Linked DNA regions of Homo sapiens: region 1 is linked to region 2. The links come from fine-mapping of genetic effects on gene expression. Tissue or cell type: whole blood. Region 2 holds a variant in brackets; the other region holds the start of a gene. All regions are shown on one strand. Distances are between the middles of the regions.

What was found. PIP is the estimated chance that this variant, and not a neighbour inherited with it, causes the effect.
Region 1: HIF1A starts here. The variant in region 2 is fine-mapped to the expression of HIF1A in whole blood (TOPMed, PIP above 0.99).

Annotation. Positions count from the first base shown.
Region 1 is chr14:61,691,105-61,699,286 of GRCh38, forward strand. It overlaps HIF1A (hypoxia inducible factor 1 subunit alpha), which reads left to right and starts at 4,409. Exons shown (of 15, transcript NM_001530.4): 1 at 4,409-4,735. The coding sequence starts at 4,701. It overlaps HIF1A-AS1 (HIF1A antisense RNA 1), which reads right to left and starts at 4,719. Exons shown (of 2, transcript NR_047116.1): 1 at 4,603-4,719. RefSeq lists silencers at 1-241, 4,168-4,467, 4,768-4,867 and an enhancer at 3,728-4,097.
Region 2 is chr14:61,473,248-61,481,429 of GRCh38, forward strand. The region is part of intron 9 of PRKCH (protein kinase C eta); the gene reads left to right. Among named protein-coding and RNA genes, the nearest start is that of PRKCH-AS2, 68 kb to the right of the region's middle. RefSeq lists enhancers at 3,481-3,580, 3,691-3,770, 4,404-4,463, 5,541-5,710, 6,308-6,477 and a cis regulatory region at 5,626. The variant T/G (reference allele first, on the strand shown) is at 3,794.

The DNA.
Region 1 (8,182 bases), 220 kb after region 2:
TTCTGATGTGGTGATAAGGTGAGGGGGAGAGGAGGACTTTCTGCAGTCCTATGATTAGGGCTCAAGTCTTTTAGTGAGCTTGAGTTGAGTATTTCCCTTCTCCCCTGTGGAAGGCTAGAGCTGACCAGAGTTGGTAATTTCCCTTCCTCCAGATTGGTTAGCCTTTGGTAGATTCATCTGGTTAGGCTCTGATAGAGAGTTTCCCTTGAGGCCAGGTCTTGTTAAGAAGAACAGAGAGCCCTGAGAGTATTTCACGATGGTTACTTACCCCTTCTCCCTGGCAAAAGCAAAGCAGATTTTTCTCAGATCTTTACAGTGAGAATCTGACAGGATTCACAGAGGTAAAACTGAGGTAAGTATTGAGGCCCCTCTCAGACTGAGCCTCCTTGGAGTTTTTTAACTCTCAAGCTAGTCTGCACTGAGCCTCCAGCAATTCCCCAATTACAGTTTAGTGTTCCTACTGATGTTGGCTCCAGCTGTGAAACTAGCTTCAGCTTCTGGCTTCTGTGCCTGGGCTCTGCTCCTGGTAAACTGTGATTCTCTGAAAAGCTGTGATTCTCTGTATCTATCTGTCTGTCTCTCTAGTTTTTAGGGCAGTGGTTTTTCCTGTGACCTCAATTCTCTGGTGGATCTAAGAAGAGTTACTGATTTCAGTTTGCTTAGCTTTTTTTTTTCTTGTTGTGAGGATGGGAGTGACAACTTCCAAGCTCTTTACATGTTGAACAGGAAACTGAAAGCCCCTTGGTGTTCCTTTGTAAATTCATCTTAAAAATATTTATCATAATTGAAAAGTGCTAATATCAAATTTTCAGTCTGTTTATATTCCCCCTAAACTCAGATAAATATACATTTTATTTTGTGTGTCTGTGTGTGTGGGTTTTGTTGTTGTTTGTTTTTTGTGTTTTTTTTTAAGATATAGGGTCTTGCTCTGTCAAGGCTGGAGTGCAGTGGCACAATCGTACATCTCTGCAGCCTCGAACTCCTGGGAGAAAGTGATCCTCCCGCTTTAGCCTTCAGAGTAGCTACGACTACAGGCACTAACCACCAAGCCCAGCTAATTTTTAAAATTTTTTGTAGAGATGGGAGTTTCACTTTGTTGCCCAGGCTGGTCTCAAACTCTTGGCCTCAAGTGATCCTCCTGCCTCAGCCTCCCAAAATGTTGGAATCACAGATACTTTGTGTCTTGATTCTTGAAAGGAAAAAACAAAGATTTTTAATGCCTCTTATCTTGTACGCACTTTCCTTCCAAACAATACCCTTTTGCTGCCATTGTTCTCGTTATGAATAGCTTAAAGAAAAAGAAACAACTAAGGGTAGTAATAGGCCAGGAATCACTTACTGAATACTAGGTCTTCTTGTATAGTTTGATACCCTATAAATTGTGTGCATCTGATGCATTTCACCTTCAAAAGGCTCAATGCTCTGTATTATTTAGTAGTAATCAAAATTTCAAGTTTTACTTAACCTCCTGATTCACTGCCCAATTTCCTAATAAATACGGGCTAAGGGTCAATGGGGTCATTTGCAAGTAATCTTGTAGTCTACTCAGAAAGTTCTGCAAAGTTAGAAAGTGATTAAATGACTGTTTGTTAAGATATACTTACATAGTAATAACCTAAATGCATTTGTTAAGTGGTTGTAGAGAGAGGGATTTAAAATTTTATCCTATATGAAATTTTCCTTTTTGGTGTCTGTTATTTAATAGGATTGTTTGAATTAGGGGATACTATTTGGTGCCTTTGTAACTATATGAAAATTAGTTGGTTGAATATTACTGCTTTCCATGTTCATATTTATATTTGTATAGACATATATATATATACACATATACTACTTTCCTTTCCATTTTCATATTTATATTTGTGTATACACATATACATAAACATATATTTTATACATTTTTGAAAAGGAAAATTAACTTAAGGGCATATTTAATGAATATTCAAAAATTTTTTTGCTGATCAAATTATCATTCTGCTTTAAACTTTTGAAATGATCCAAAAAAATTTTAAATGACTTAGATTTACTGTTACAAAATGCTTGTCTTTTGATGTCACAAACATTATATACTATAATCACTGGCCAGAGATAATTGCTATAAGTATAATGAAAAGGGAAATGATGGAAGATCTCTGCAGCTATCCTCATAAATGAGGGTGGGAACACGATGGGCAGTTCCAAAGTTGAAAATAGAGAATATATGTGGATTTATATTAACATAATTGGTATTCTTGGATAGTTAAAAATGGCTAAACTGTAGGAGAAGCCCGAGTAATTACTGTTAACAGAGGAATAAATTTGAGGGCAATAATAATGATGATAGGCCAGGCACTGTGGCTCATGCCTGTAATCCCAGCACTTTGGGAACCCGAGGCGAGCGGACCACCTGAGGTCAGGAGTTCGAGAGCAGCCTGGCCAACATGGTGAAACCTCGTCTCTACTAAAAATAGAAAAATTATCCGAGTGTGGTGGTGCGTGCCTGTAATCCCAGCTACTTGGGAGGCTGAGGCAGGAGAATCACTTGTACCTGGGAGGCGGAGTTGCAGTGAGCCGAAATCGCGCCACTGCGCTCCAGCCTGTGGGCCAGAGCGAGACTCCGCCTCAGAATAATAATAATGATAATAATAATAACGCCACCAACAATACTAAGAGCTAACATTTACTGAGTGCTTACTATGCACCAGATATTGTTCTAAGTATACATTTATTATCTCATTTAACCATCCATAATACTGTGGTATAGACACTTTTATATCCATTTTATAAATAAGTAAACTGAGTTATGGAGAGATTAAACGACTTGCCAGTAAGATTCAAAGCCTGTGTACAAGCTCACGCTTGATTCTGGAGCCAGTGTTCTTAACACAGTATCTTGAGAATGTTAAACTAAAAAGTTTTTAATTTACAGTATTCTTTCCACAATTAAAAAAGAAATTATGAGTAATTATTTTTAGTTCTTTCTTCTCTTCAGGCATTTCCCATGGTTCTTTTCAAGACATAATACATATCATTTAGTGTTGTAGATCTGAAAAAACAAAAGTAGCGTGAAGATCAAAAATTTTCTAAAGAGACGGAGTCTCGCTACGTTCCCTAGGCTGGAACACCCAGGCTTCTCCAGCCTCACACCTCTGAGTAGCTGGAACCACCCTGTCCGCTAAGGTCAATGTTTAATCGTATCTTTGTAGGTCTACTGACCAGTTAAAAAGAGGTGCTGTATACATTGGTTGTTGTCTTGTCAGAGTTTGATGCTTCTATATAGACCATTGTTTTTACATGCTAATACAATTGAAAGCCACTACAGATATTTATATTTACAACCCAAAGCTAGGTTTTAACAAGAAACTCATAAGGCAAAGGTGAGAAGTAAAATAATTTAGCGCCAAGTGGAGATATATGTGCAATGCTACTTTGTTGGGCTCAAAACATATTTTTCTTTTAGAAGACTGACAGGCTTGAAGTTTATGCCTCCAAAGACAAAAGTGATTATGTTTTGTTTAGTAGCTTGCAAAGTTGCCAAAGGCCATTTTTTCTACTCTTTCCCTGAAATTGGTTTATATGCTTATTAAAGTCATTTATACCTATTTGCAAATGCTTAACATAGTTTCAGATTTTAAGATTTCCCTGCAACTTTATTTCCCTTGAAGTTTACAGCAACAGGAGTTCATTTTTATTTTTAATTGCATTTATTCAGTAAGTAAACTCCGCCACAGAAAAACTTAGTAGACAAGGTGAGTTCCCCTGTGCTCCGTGGCAAAGAGTGCGGTGGGTGACATTGACCCATGGTTAGGTAATCTGGTAAGGAAAGACCCCGTTGTAACACATCTGAGCAACGAGACCAAAGGAAGGGCTTGCTGCCACGAGGCGAAGTCTGCTTTTTTGAACAGAGAGCCCAGCAGAGTTGGGCGGCAATCGTGCCCAGCACTGAGGCCGAGGAGAAAGAGAGCAGGAGCATTACATTACTGCACCAAGAGTAGGAAAATATGATGCATGTTTGGGACCAGGCAACCGAAATCCCTTCTCAGCAGCGCCTCCCAAAGCCGGGCACCGCCTTCCTTCGGAGAAGGCGCAGAGTCCCCAGACTCGGGCTGAGCCGCACCCCCATCTCCTTTCTCTTTCCTCCGCCGCTAAACACAGACGAGCACGTGAGCGTCGCAGCCCGTCCCAGCTGTGCCTCAGCTGACCGCCTCCTGATTGGCTGAGAGCGGCGTGGGCTGGGGTGGGGACTTGCCGCCTGCGTCGCTCGCCATTGGATCTCGAGGAACCCGCCTCCACCTCAGGTGAGGCGGGCTTGCGGGAGCGCGCGCCGGCCTGGGCAGGCGAGCGGGCGCGCTCCCGCCCCCTCTCCCCTCCCCGCGCGCCCGAGCGCGCCTCCGCCCTTGCCCGCCCCCTGACGCTGCCTCAGCTCCTCAGTGCACAGTGCTGCCTCGTCTGAGGGGACAGGAGGATCACCCTCTTCGTCGCTTCGGCCAGTGTGTCGGGCTGGGCCCTGACAAGCCACCTGAGGAGAGGCTCGGAGCCGGGCCCGGACCCCGGCGATTGCCGCCCGCTTCTCTCTAGTCTCACGAGGGGTTTCCCGCCTCGCACCCCCACCTCTGGACTTGCCTTTCCTTCTCTTCTCCGCGTGTGGAGGGAGCCAGCGCTTAGGCCGGAGCGAGCCTGGGGGCCGCCCGCCGTGAAGACATCGCGGGGACCGATTCACCATGGAGGGCGCCGGCGGCGCGAACGACAAGAAAAAGTAAGCCCATTCCCTCGGCCCGCCGCCTTCTCCCCCGGCGACCCCGCCCGCCTGCCCGCCCTGGGCTCCTGGGCCGGCCTCGGCGTTAATGGGATTGGGGGGGGCAGCCTTTTTGTTTCTGCTGCTGCTCCCCTCCCCTCTCTTCCCCCAACCTCGCCGGCCGGGCTCCCCCGCTGTCCACGTCGCCATCTTGTCGTGGGGGGTGGGAGACGCCTCGAAAGTGCTTTCAGGGGCCGGGGTCTGAGCCCTGCTTGCCCTCCCCGCCGGCCGTGGGGGCCTCGCGCCGCCCACCTACCCGCCTCAAAAACCCAGCCTGCTCTGTGGCCCCATCCGGAGGGGACTTTACCCAGCCTGAAAACCCCGGGAAGAGAAATGAGCTGCAGCTCGGTAGCCGCGGTTTGCACCCGGAGCTTCCGCTCCTTCCCGCCCCCATCCTCTCCAGTTCCATTGAAAACTCGGCCCTGGGGCGGACCCTGCACGCTGGTCCTGGCTTTCCAGTGGACTTGGGGCCTTGAGTTCCCGACTGAGGGACTCGCGTGGTCGGATGCGATCTTGTCCTGTAGTTGTCCAGCCGTCGCGGGTGTCTTTGCCTTTGTGCATTAGGGATTTGCCGCGATGGCCTTAAGATGCGAACTTTTTAGTTTGCACGTGCAGGTTTTGTTTCGTTTTAATCGCCTTGAAAAACTTGCCTAGACTGAGAGTCAGAGTAATGGGAATTTAGGGAAATGGCAACATTTTAAAGAGAACTTCAGAATTGGATACTTGAGTTCATATCACCTGTCACGAGAACGCAGATATTATAAATGAATATATGCCTCATTCATTCTTCAAATAATGAAAATGTAGGGGCTGGTTAAATTTAGGCAGTTTTAATGATACTGAAAAAAGTATATGATGAGTGAATGAAATGCGGCACTAAAATGTTGCAAAAATTTTCGAACTCTGTCTCATTTTCCTGAAATTGAAGTATATTAAAGGAAAACCGTCAACATATATCTAAAGTAAGTAATCACTCGGTTAGAACTTAATGCAAGTTTTATAAATCACCTTGAAGTTTGAGTCTAAGGGGTACATTAGAGATTAAGAATTGTGAGTTGGACCAGTGGTGTTAAGAGCGGACTCCCCCATCCCCCAACACACACACAATTTTGCCCACTTTGGCATTTTAACTTTTAAGGAAATCACTTAAGGAATTGAAGATTTAGAGTAAGAGTTTTGGTTAGTAGACTGGCTTTGCTGTTAAATCCTTCCACTCTTCTGGCAGAGAGATTAATTTCCCTAATCAGTATCAGCAGAAGATAAACTTGTTTATATTCCTGCTGTTTTGTAGATCCCTTCTCCTGGTCCTTCTTCAATAGAATATTAAATTCTTAGTTTGTATACAGCAGAGAAGGTCACTTATAAAATTCAAAAAGTGAGCAAACAGGTCTAGATTAATTCCAAGAGTTACCAGGAATTAATTGCAGTTTATTTTGCGGAGGTGATTACAGTGCTTTTGATGAAATGATAAAGCTGCTATATTGTAAACCTAAGGCAGATTACCTCTGTGTAGTGCCAGTTTTCTATCCTTATTATATATTGAATCATACTTAATACAATGCATTAAATTATGTACCACTTTTTTTATATACAGTATCGAACTCATTGTTTTGCCATTCATCCGTTCAGAATATCAGAAGCAGTTTTGAAACGAATTAATAAATTAGCTACTGTTCATCAGCCCCAATTCTAAATAAGCTCTTAGATTTTCCTCAGCCCATCTGTTACTTTCAAAATTTTCTCATTTGAAAACTTGGCAACCTTGGATTGGATGGATTCATATTTCTTAGTATAGAAGTTCTTGATATAACTGAAAAATTAAGTTAAACACTTAATAAGTGGTGGTTACTCAGCACTTTTAGATGCTGTTTATAATAGATGACCTTTTCTAACTAATTTACAGTTTTTTGAAAGATAACTGAGAGGTTGAGGGACGGAGATTTTCTTCAAGCAATTTTTTTTTTCATTTTAAATGAGCTCCCAATGTCGGAGTTTGGAAAACAAATTTGTCTTTTTAAAAGAAGGTCTAGGAAACTCAAAACCTGAAGAATTGGAAGAAATCAGAATAGAAAATGGGTATGGTTATGATACTGTAGATTTAACGCAGGACATTTCATGTTGTTCCTAGTTATAGGGGCTGAACTTATTTAATAGCACGTGCATTTTGATTTTTAGATTTTTAAGGGAATGTCAAGAGAGTAATGATTCTGTTTCAGGCTTCAGGCCAGACTCCTTCAGAGTTTTCCAAAACAAATAATTACTGAATCATTAAAGTAAAATTTCTGAGAATAGATATTCCTTAATTTCCTTCATTAACTTTGGCCATTAAAAGTCAAGAAGCTCTCTCATTTATTAGCAAACTTTTCTCCTTATGATTCTATTTTGATTGTCCTTTTGTTTGAGGAAGCAGCATATGGTGGTTAAGAGCATAGGATCTAGAGGCAGATACCTCTGAGTTAAGGGTCCCAGCCCTTCACTTGTGAGCTTGAGCAAGTTACTGAATGCCTCTGAGCCTCTTTCCTCCTTTTGAAATGATGATAAGAATAGCAGCCATCTGAGCAGTTATTGTAAAGGTTAAATGAGATAATGCTTGTGAAGCACTTAGCCCATTGCAGGAGTCTTGATGACACTGTGTACTTGAAAATAGATGTTACCTGTTAAAATTCTTGTTTAAACTTCCACAACTCTTAAAACTCTTTTTTGCTAGTCCTTCCAGCTGTTTCCTTTAGTTTCTTTTCTGTGTCTTCATGCATCTTTTCTATCTCCTGAAAGTGAAAAGACTAACATTGGATCCAGAGCTTGAAAAGCGTTTTTTTCCTGTTACAATGGGCAAAAGAGTACATCCTTGGGTTATATTGGCACCTAGTATCAGTTATTTTTCTTGAGCATCTGATCTGCTCTCTACTCTAGTGGAGGCCTCCTGCTTCACAATTGCTCACCCCTGTGTTTTCTCCCCAAATAGAATACTGAGTTTACTCTGGACTCTAGAGTCAAACATACACAGTATTCTAGTCTTACTGTTCATTTAAGCAAGATATGTGCAAGACACTGCATTCTTAGTACTGGCAGTAAGTTAAAACATTTTTCGTCTTGATGCCAAAGTTTAGACAATTTTATAAAAATTAACCTTTGTAAAAGATAATGAGTTGATAAAATATTCTCAGTAAAGCAGCTACGTGGTAGAAAAACTGTCCTTTGCTTATGAGTTTCTCCAGAGTTAAGACCATTGGGTTCCATCTGAAGGCAAGACTTCAAGCTTGTCTTACTGGTCTGTTTTGTGGCTCAATTTGTATGAAGTCTATGCACTCTTCCACACGTGTGTATTTACTGAACTATCGAGTTATTTTAGACTGAGAAAGTATTGGAGTTCATTCCTACGGTCCACTGCAGAGCACCTTGTGCAGTTTG
Region 2 (8,182 bases):
GATGAAGAAGCAAAGTCATAATGGGTCTGATGTCCTTTGCTGAGGAGCTTAGACTAAACTGTTTAGGTAAAAGGAGCCAGCAAAATCTTTAAGTGAGGGAGTAACATAAGATTTGCATGTTAGAAGGCTCTCTCTGGCTGCTATGTACAGAGGGAGGCTAATGGCAGCAGATCTGGTGAGGATGCTGGGCCCGTGATCTGGGAACTTGCCTGCCCCAAGGCAGCAATCATGGGAGTGGAGTCAAGGAAACACTAAAGAAGTAGACATGATAGGACTTTTTAAGTGGGAATGGCCAGGGCTCTGGCCATTTGGAAGCCTAAAGAGAATGGAATAGCATGAGTTCGGTTTGGGGGAAATTCAGTGGTAAGATGCTTGTTTGTCAGAAACACACTTGAGATGGGAGATCAGTTTGGTGTCATCCATGTCCTCTTGGTAAGTGGAAACTATAATATAAAATCTTTCAGGCCAGGTGCAGTGGCTCACACCTGTAATCCCAGCACTTTGGGAGGCCAAGGTGAGTGGATCACCTGAGGTCAGGAGTTCGAGACCAGCCTGGCCAACATGGCAAAACCCTGTCTCTACTAAAAATACAAAAATTAGCCGGGCATGGTGGCACGCACCTGTAATCCCAGCTACTCAGGAGGTTGAGGCAGGGAGAATCGCTTGCACCCGGGAGGCAAAGGTTGCAGTGAACCAAGATCACGCCATTGCACTCCAGCCTGGGCAACAGAGCGAGACTCTGTCTTAAAAAAAAAAAAAATCAAAAATCTTTTAGTAGATGTTTATAGAGAGAGAAGAGAGGAGACTTGAAGAAGGAATTCTAAGTAAGGGTTAAGGTTGAGTGGAAAAAAGAAGAAGAATCAGAAGGAAGTGGTTTCATAGTAGGATAAATCAAGTGCTGAGATGAAGTCAGTTCACTAACAGACTCAGAGTTCTATTGGATACGGCATGAGGTTCTTGGTGTCACCATCTTAGGATCTGCTCATTTTTGGGGTTTTAAGAACCTGTCTGAACTCCACTTAGCCAACTGAAGCTTGCCTTCAAAGTTAACACAATGTGCTTTCTCCCATATAAACCTTTTAAGCTGTTTCTGATGACTGTTCCCCTTCCTGTTAGAGCTCCACCTCTTTTAATTTAGCCTCCATACCTTTAGAGTAAGGTCTGCAACTTTCTTCCTTAATTGACAGTGGAGATCAATATGTAACCCAGATTGCAAAAATGGTTTGGGAACACTGCATGTTCTCACTCATAGGTGGGAGTTGAACACATGGACACAGGGTGGGAAACATCACACACTGGGGCCTGGCAGGGGATGGGGGGCTGGGGGAGGGATAGCATTAGGAGAAATACCTAATGTAAATGACGAGTTGATGGGTACAGCAAACCAACATGGCACATATATACCTATGTAACAAACCTGCACGTTGTGCACATGTACCCTAGAACTTAAAGTATAATTTTAAAAAAATTTTTTAATAGTTTGGGAAGAAATTGTGGGCATGTCATTTGCTTGAACAGATTTTGTTCCCCAGCCAGAGGACCAGAGAAGAGTTTGTCATGGCTACAGTGGAGGAATCAAACTCAGAATAGCATGTGAAAGGCACATTCCACACAGAAACTTCGGCCCGTGCATCAGCACTGCAGACAGGGGGAGAGGAAATGAATTCTCAGCCAGTAGATTCCCAGGCATCACCTTGAGGCAGATATGGCATATTCTTGGCCATAGTCTCTACTTCTCTAACTGGGCAAAGTGTCTAATCAACTATAACCCAAAATATCTTCCCACATGGCATAAGTGTCGAATTCATACATAGATCAGAGGGAGAAATGAAATTGTGGTTGTCTTAAAAGTTTACACAGTTTAGGGATCTCCATCATGAAAAATGATCTAAATAAATGAAATGGTATTTTTACTCTTTATCCTACAAGCCCTATACAAACTAAGTCCATAAATATCCTATTTGATGCTTAAACCAAAAGCTTTATAAAGAGAATTTCACTATGTGAAATAATGACTTGAAGAAATCCTATTGTGGATGCTTTTGTTAAGTTGCTAAACCTTTTTTAAAAAGTAGATAATCATCCAAGATATCTTCTTTGTGACTCTTAAGTTTTAGTGTATTTCAAATGTGGATAGTTTTTGACTAGGAGGTTTGTTCAAACGTTCTTCTCGACCACTAGGGGGTGCTCTAAAGGTTAGTGATGTCTAAATGATTGACCAATCAATTAAAACACCGTGCCCAGTTAGCAATCATCTCCACTGAGAGATGCCTGCTTTACCAGGCTAAAAAAATGATCTTTATCATGGCATAGAGACTATAAAAGCTGTGTCCTTTTATTTTCATTAACCTAATTAGAAGTCAAGCTAATTGTAGGACTTCATAGAACTGGCATCGGGAATAGCATGCAACTGTTAAAAAAATCATGGTCTTGATGACTAATTATATCAGGAAATAATATGCAATATAAATGAAAAGAGAAGTGTATGTTTTTTACTTTTTCCTTTCTGTTTTTAAAACATGCTATAAAATGTTAAGTATAATTAGGACACAAAGGAAAAATTAAATCTAGTTAACATTACCTTGAAAACTTCTTATTTGCCCTGAAATCTCCAGTTCTTTGGAAGCTAAAAGCTTGAGACTTCTATATCTGGTTGTCAGGATTAGGGTGATTTTATTTGAATTTTCTTTATTTTCTTCTCAATTTTCTATCTATTTACTTTGTAATTACATTTGAACTATGGATATGTAATTAGTTTTATAAATAGAAAAATCAAAGCTTTATAAAGGAAAATATAGCATCAGCAGACCTGATTGTCCTACTTAACTCTTCCACAAACTGTTTTAACTATGGGCAAGGTACTTCACTTCTTTGCCCTTTGCTTCTGTAAAATGGTTGGGTGAAACGAATCTTGGCAGTTTGTTCCAGCTCTTCTAAAGTTCCATTTTAAATTTTACCAGGAGACAAAAATGGTTCCTATTATGTTCACTCTTGAAGCATTTATTAACCCTCACAATTGGCCAGGCACTGTGCTTGGTGCTATTAAAGATATCTCACTTAGTATCTGGGCTCTGCCTTCAAGGGTTTCCGGTCCCCCATGGAAAAGAAGACCAAGTGCACAGATCCATCCCAGCCCTACACAATGATACTGGAAAGCTGTATGTGGACCAGAAATGCCAAAGGAGGTTCCATCAGGAAGAGGGGACTTGTGCTCTGACTCTGCTGTACCCCTGATCATATGTTACCACTTATTTATGCTTTAAAGAACATCCTGGCCTGGATGTTTCACAGTGTGTTAAACTGCAAGGTAGATTTCCTCTTTGTTTCCCTGGTCTACTGTATATATGCCAGTAAGCCTTGTCAGGTTTCATTATGAGAGATGGCTATAATGCATCCAGATTACTAGGAAAACACTTGGTCTTTGAAAAGAGCTGTGTGTCCCTCTAGGTTTGAAATGCAAAGTCCTAAGGCTTTGTTATATTCAGGACATATTTCACCTTCCCAAAGACTAGTCTCAGCTCAGACAGGATGTATCTTGCCTGTGGGCTTGACACAGGGGTTGCTGGGTGATTGAATTAACCTCTGACATCTTCTGGGCTGTGCAAAATGATAAGTTCAAAAAAAAAATGCAGCCATTAGACTCCTTCTCATTGTTTCTTCCTTGAAGCCTTTGTAATCTTTCTTAATGTGGTTAAATTCAAGTTATTTCCAGTTCAGACATGGTGCAATCAGATTTCCTCATGCGGGTGCTTTTCCACTGTGACCTCTTTGACGTCAGTAACTGTTTCCTGTT[T/G]ATTTGAACTCCCTGCTCACCCTGTAGATGACTTTGTCTGAGAAAAATAATAAAGCAACGGTACTTAGGAGAAGTTCAACACTGCTATCTGTTACGGAGATTTCCTTCTCCTTTCCCCCAGCCGTCAATAGCACTCTGCAGCTTTTCATACAGCATGAGCTTGTTATTCATGTAGAAATACTCCAAGGCAGTTCTTAGAACTTGGGTAAGTAAGAATAGATGTGGCTCCCAGCTTAACATTGCCTTAAAGCAATAGCTACATTTTTCATAACTTTTACGTGTTATGTCTATCTTTGAATTATTTCCAAAAGGTAATCTGCATCCTCACTATAATTCTGAGTATGGTGGCTATTTCCTACTGCCTTGGTTTCTGGAATGATACATCTTCAAATGCAGTCTTTAAATCATAGAGACAACAGATTTTTTCTTTAAATGGAGACAAATCTTTGCAATCTGGTTCTGAGATTGAATCAACTTTATAGAAAGGAAGAATAACTGCTATAAAAAGTCTCGCTTACAGTAATATGTTTTTAGTACATAAGGAGGGCATTTGTTTTGCAATAATAATTATTATAAAGCCCCTAAAATAGAAAATATGAATTACCAGTCAGTGTTAGAAAACTTATCAGAACTGAAACCTTTGTTAGTATGTTTTGGTTATCAAATCTAGTTTTGTAACCCCTTGCTTAGCAAGCATTTCCCAGAAAGAAAAGTCCTTACCCGGTCAAGGCCATTACCATATAGCATCGGGAAACATCCCTGTGTCCCAACAGCTGGGCTAGGACTCCTTCCACCTCCTTCGACCCTCTATACCCTTGTCCCACACTGAGGGTTGGGGGAGCTGCTGCAGTTGCTGTTTCGGCTGCTGTTTCATTCCTGTCCACTTGTGAGTGTGTGTGTACCTCCGCCAGTCTTGGAGGTCTGTGAAGGAGGCCTCGAGACCCAGTGCATGCAGCTCACTGCCACGTGTGCCACAGCCACAGCCAAGGGGCCTTCCTATGCCTCATGCATCAGGCCCTTTGGAGCCCTGGGAGCAGACGGCCATGGCGGCTGAAGCTGCAGTGGATGCACTCATGATGATGAGGATAATAATAGTTGCTAACATTTCTTGAGCATTTCACTTATGGTATGCCAGACACTATTCAAAGCCCTTAGCTTAAATCATTTAATCCTCACAAACCTGTGAGTTGGGTTGTCTTATTATCCCCATTTTGCAGAAGTGAGTTTTGTGAGAGAGAAGCTAAATACAGCACAGCAGGAGTTGCTCTTGGACCTCAAGCATCCTGGCCCAGAGCCCAGGTGTCGCCACTGCCCTGGGCTTCCTCTTAGTCATACCAGGGACTTGGGCACTGGGCACAAAATCTCCTCTTTATATAATGTAGTGGTACCAATAGCTTCTATTGATTGAGATTCTTTTCTGGGCTTGGCACTGTATGAGGCACTTGGCTTCTGGTTTAATCTTTACATGATCACTGTAGTTATAGATGTTATTATCCCAGATTTATAAATAAATAAGGAAACTTCTTACCCCTTAAAAATGGGTGTGTGTGCCATGCATGGTTGCTCACGCCTGTAATCCCAGCACTTTGGGAGGCCGAGGTAGGATTGCTTGAGCCTAGGAGTTCAAGACCAGCCTGTGCAACACAAAGATACCCAGTCTATACAAAAAATTAGCCAGATGTGGTGGCACAAACCTGTGGTCCCAGCCGCACAGGAGGCTGAGGTTGGAAGGATCACTTAAGCCCAGAAGTTCAGCGCTGCAGTGAGCCATGATCCTGCCACTGCCCTCCAGCCTGGGTGACAGAGCAAGACCCTGTCTCAAAAAGAAAAACAAAAATTGTGTGTATTTTAGCTGAAATTCTCCTGGTAGCAGAAAATTTACTTCAGGTAGTAAGAAAACTTTCTTAAGGCTATGCAAAAAAAAGAACTAAAAATAAAGATTCAGAGGTACAACGGATGTCTCATGCAACCCAAGGGCAGGAGTTGGCCAGCTCTCTCGGCTGATCTGAAACCAGAAAGACATGAGGAACCCTGGCAGTTTTGCTCTTGGCTCACTCACCCTCCCTGATCTCTTGTCTCTGCCTCACTCTATGTTTCTGCTTCATTCTTCTCCTTCACCCACCCACCTGTCCATCCACCCACCCAGTCTTTCTCCACTCTCTTATACCCAGGCATTTCCCACGTTTACACTGCAAAAGCAGTTTCCGTTTCCTAACTCATGTTTCCTCAGTTCCTGCACACAGCCTAGACTAAATTAAAAGCTTTTTACCTCAGTTTCAGTTTTCTGGAAAAGAGACTCTGAGCAGGTGCAGCTTGATCTAACTGGCTGTGCACAGATGCTGAGCGTTTACCCATGCGGCCAGGCTGGAGCATGGGTAAATGCTGAGGAAGGGATCACCATGAGCTGAGCAGATGCCTCCAAAGATGTTTGCCCCAGTGACCTTACAGGATCTTGCCCTGCCTGGTCCATGCTCGCTCTCCAGTCACTTTCCTTAGTTAGTATCATCTTGTCACTGGTACCATCCTGGCATAGCACTTTCATCCACCCGGATGTTATGTCTCTTGTTCATACAAATTGCCCATCAGCTTTAACTCCTATCGAACAGCCCTTAATGAGGGGGCCTTAGGGAATGCACCTTACTTATACTGACAGCCATTATTCGGGGGATATTTTTAGCCCCTTGGGCCTGGGGAAGGAATAGTTCTGAACTGATAGCCAGGGCAGAGAGTGGACCCAGACTGCAGCAGGTCAGTGGCATCAGAGCAAGTGACGACAGGAATTCTATTATCACCAGGCAGCAGCTCCTCTGCCTCCCACACCTGTAACTCACACCAGGTGTGGGACAAAGGGATTTCTGAGTTGCTTTCACTCCCACCGGTGTTCATCACCCCATGTTAATGACTTGTACTTGTGGTTGGCTGAATCAGGGACAAAAGAGAGGAGCAGGGACAAAGGGCTTAGCCACTTGGCTTTAGAAGTGATGTTAAACCGGTCTCCTGGCCTTGAGATTTCCTACCACACAGGTCAGGGCAGACTTCACCTGACAGAAGCCAAAAGCCTCAGGTAAAGCTGTACAGATGTGCAGGCTCAGTTTCTAGGAAAATGGACTTTAGAAAAACCAAAATGGTTCTATGCACAGGTTTAAATACAGAAACAGTCATCTTTGCCATCTCTGTCTAGAGTGGGATTTGGGAAACCCCTCTCTGCCATAGGAGTGACTCACTACAACCATAATCCATCTTCCAGTACTTCCCTAAATGCAGGATTTCCAAAAAATGCTTCACCTAGTTGCTTCACAATTGAATTTGTGAAGCATGATTTGGTGTTTGTTGAGTCATCAGTGATACTAATTCTTAAATAGCACAGACTGAGAGTAGAGCTGTAGGTGAGAGGTTATCTTTTGCCTCCTTTTAGAGCTTCAAATACAGGTCTTTGCTTTGTAAAGGGCATTCACTAAATATGAGAAGTTTTACTCCTTTGGAATTAATTTTGCTGGAGTGATTTGCTTTTGTAGCTGATGTTGTTTTATTCTATGTGGCAAGTTCCAACATTACTGGAGTCTTTTTCAAGCCAAGCACCATAGCTGCACCTGTTTTACCCCAGGCACTGGGCTTATAATTCTAGTAGAGACTGGTAGTGAGTGATCATGTTTATTAATGGCAGCAGAGACCCTGCACTTCTCATTTGTGGGTGACCTGTGAAAGCACCCCTAAGTAGCTTTTTGCTTTTTCTGCATTTCATTTTGAAAACAGCAGTACAGTTACAGCGAAGCCTCACACTCACCCACTCCAGCGCTTGACAACCTGCCTGCCTTCGCAGTCCCTCCCGTCTGCCTGACATCTTACACTTCAACTGCACAGTCTTCCTGACACCTCCCACCTCAGTCCCCACTCCAGCCTGACTTGCATACCCTCATCCTTCTAGGCTGGGGAATTGACTCCTCTCAGAAGCTTCCCCCCAAACCCCACCTGCCAAATTCCACCTCCACCTCCAGGCTGCTCAGATGCCCTGCTCGGTGTCCCCATAACACCTTCTGTACCTCTCCACTGCACTTAACACACTGTGGCGATGTGCTGTGTCTGCATGTCCATGAGCTTACTGAGAGCAGTGTGGAGTCATATTAGTTTTAGGAGACTGGGTCCTTACCCAGGCCCTGGCGTACCACGTGTGTGTTTAGTAAACATTTGTCTTTGTTCAGAACCTTAAAGGAACCAAGAAGATCTCTGCAAGCTGTAGTAGATGTCGTAAAGCCTGCGCACCAGGCTCCAAGTGGAGCTGCTGGGACCTGAACCAGAGCCAGCCGATTTTCACTGTGGATGCCATTCCAACAAGCCTGGTTACCTCAGGCAGCAGAAAGGCCATTATGGGACATGGGTGGTTACTCGTGT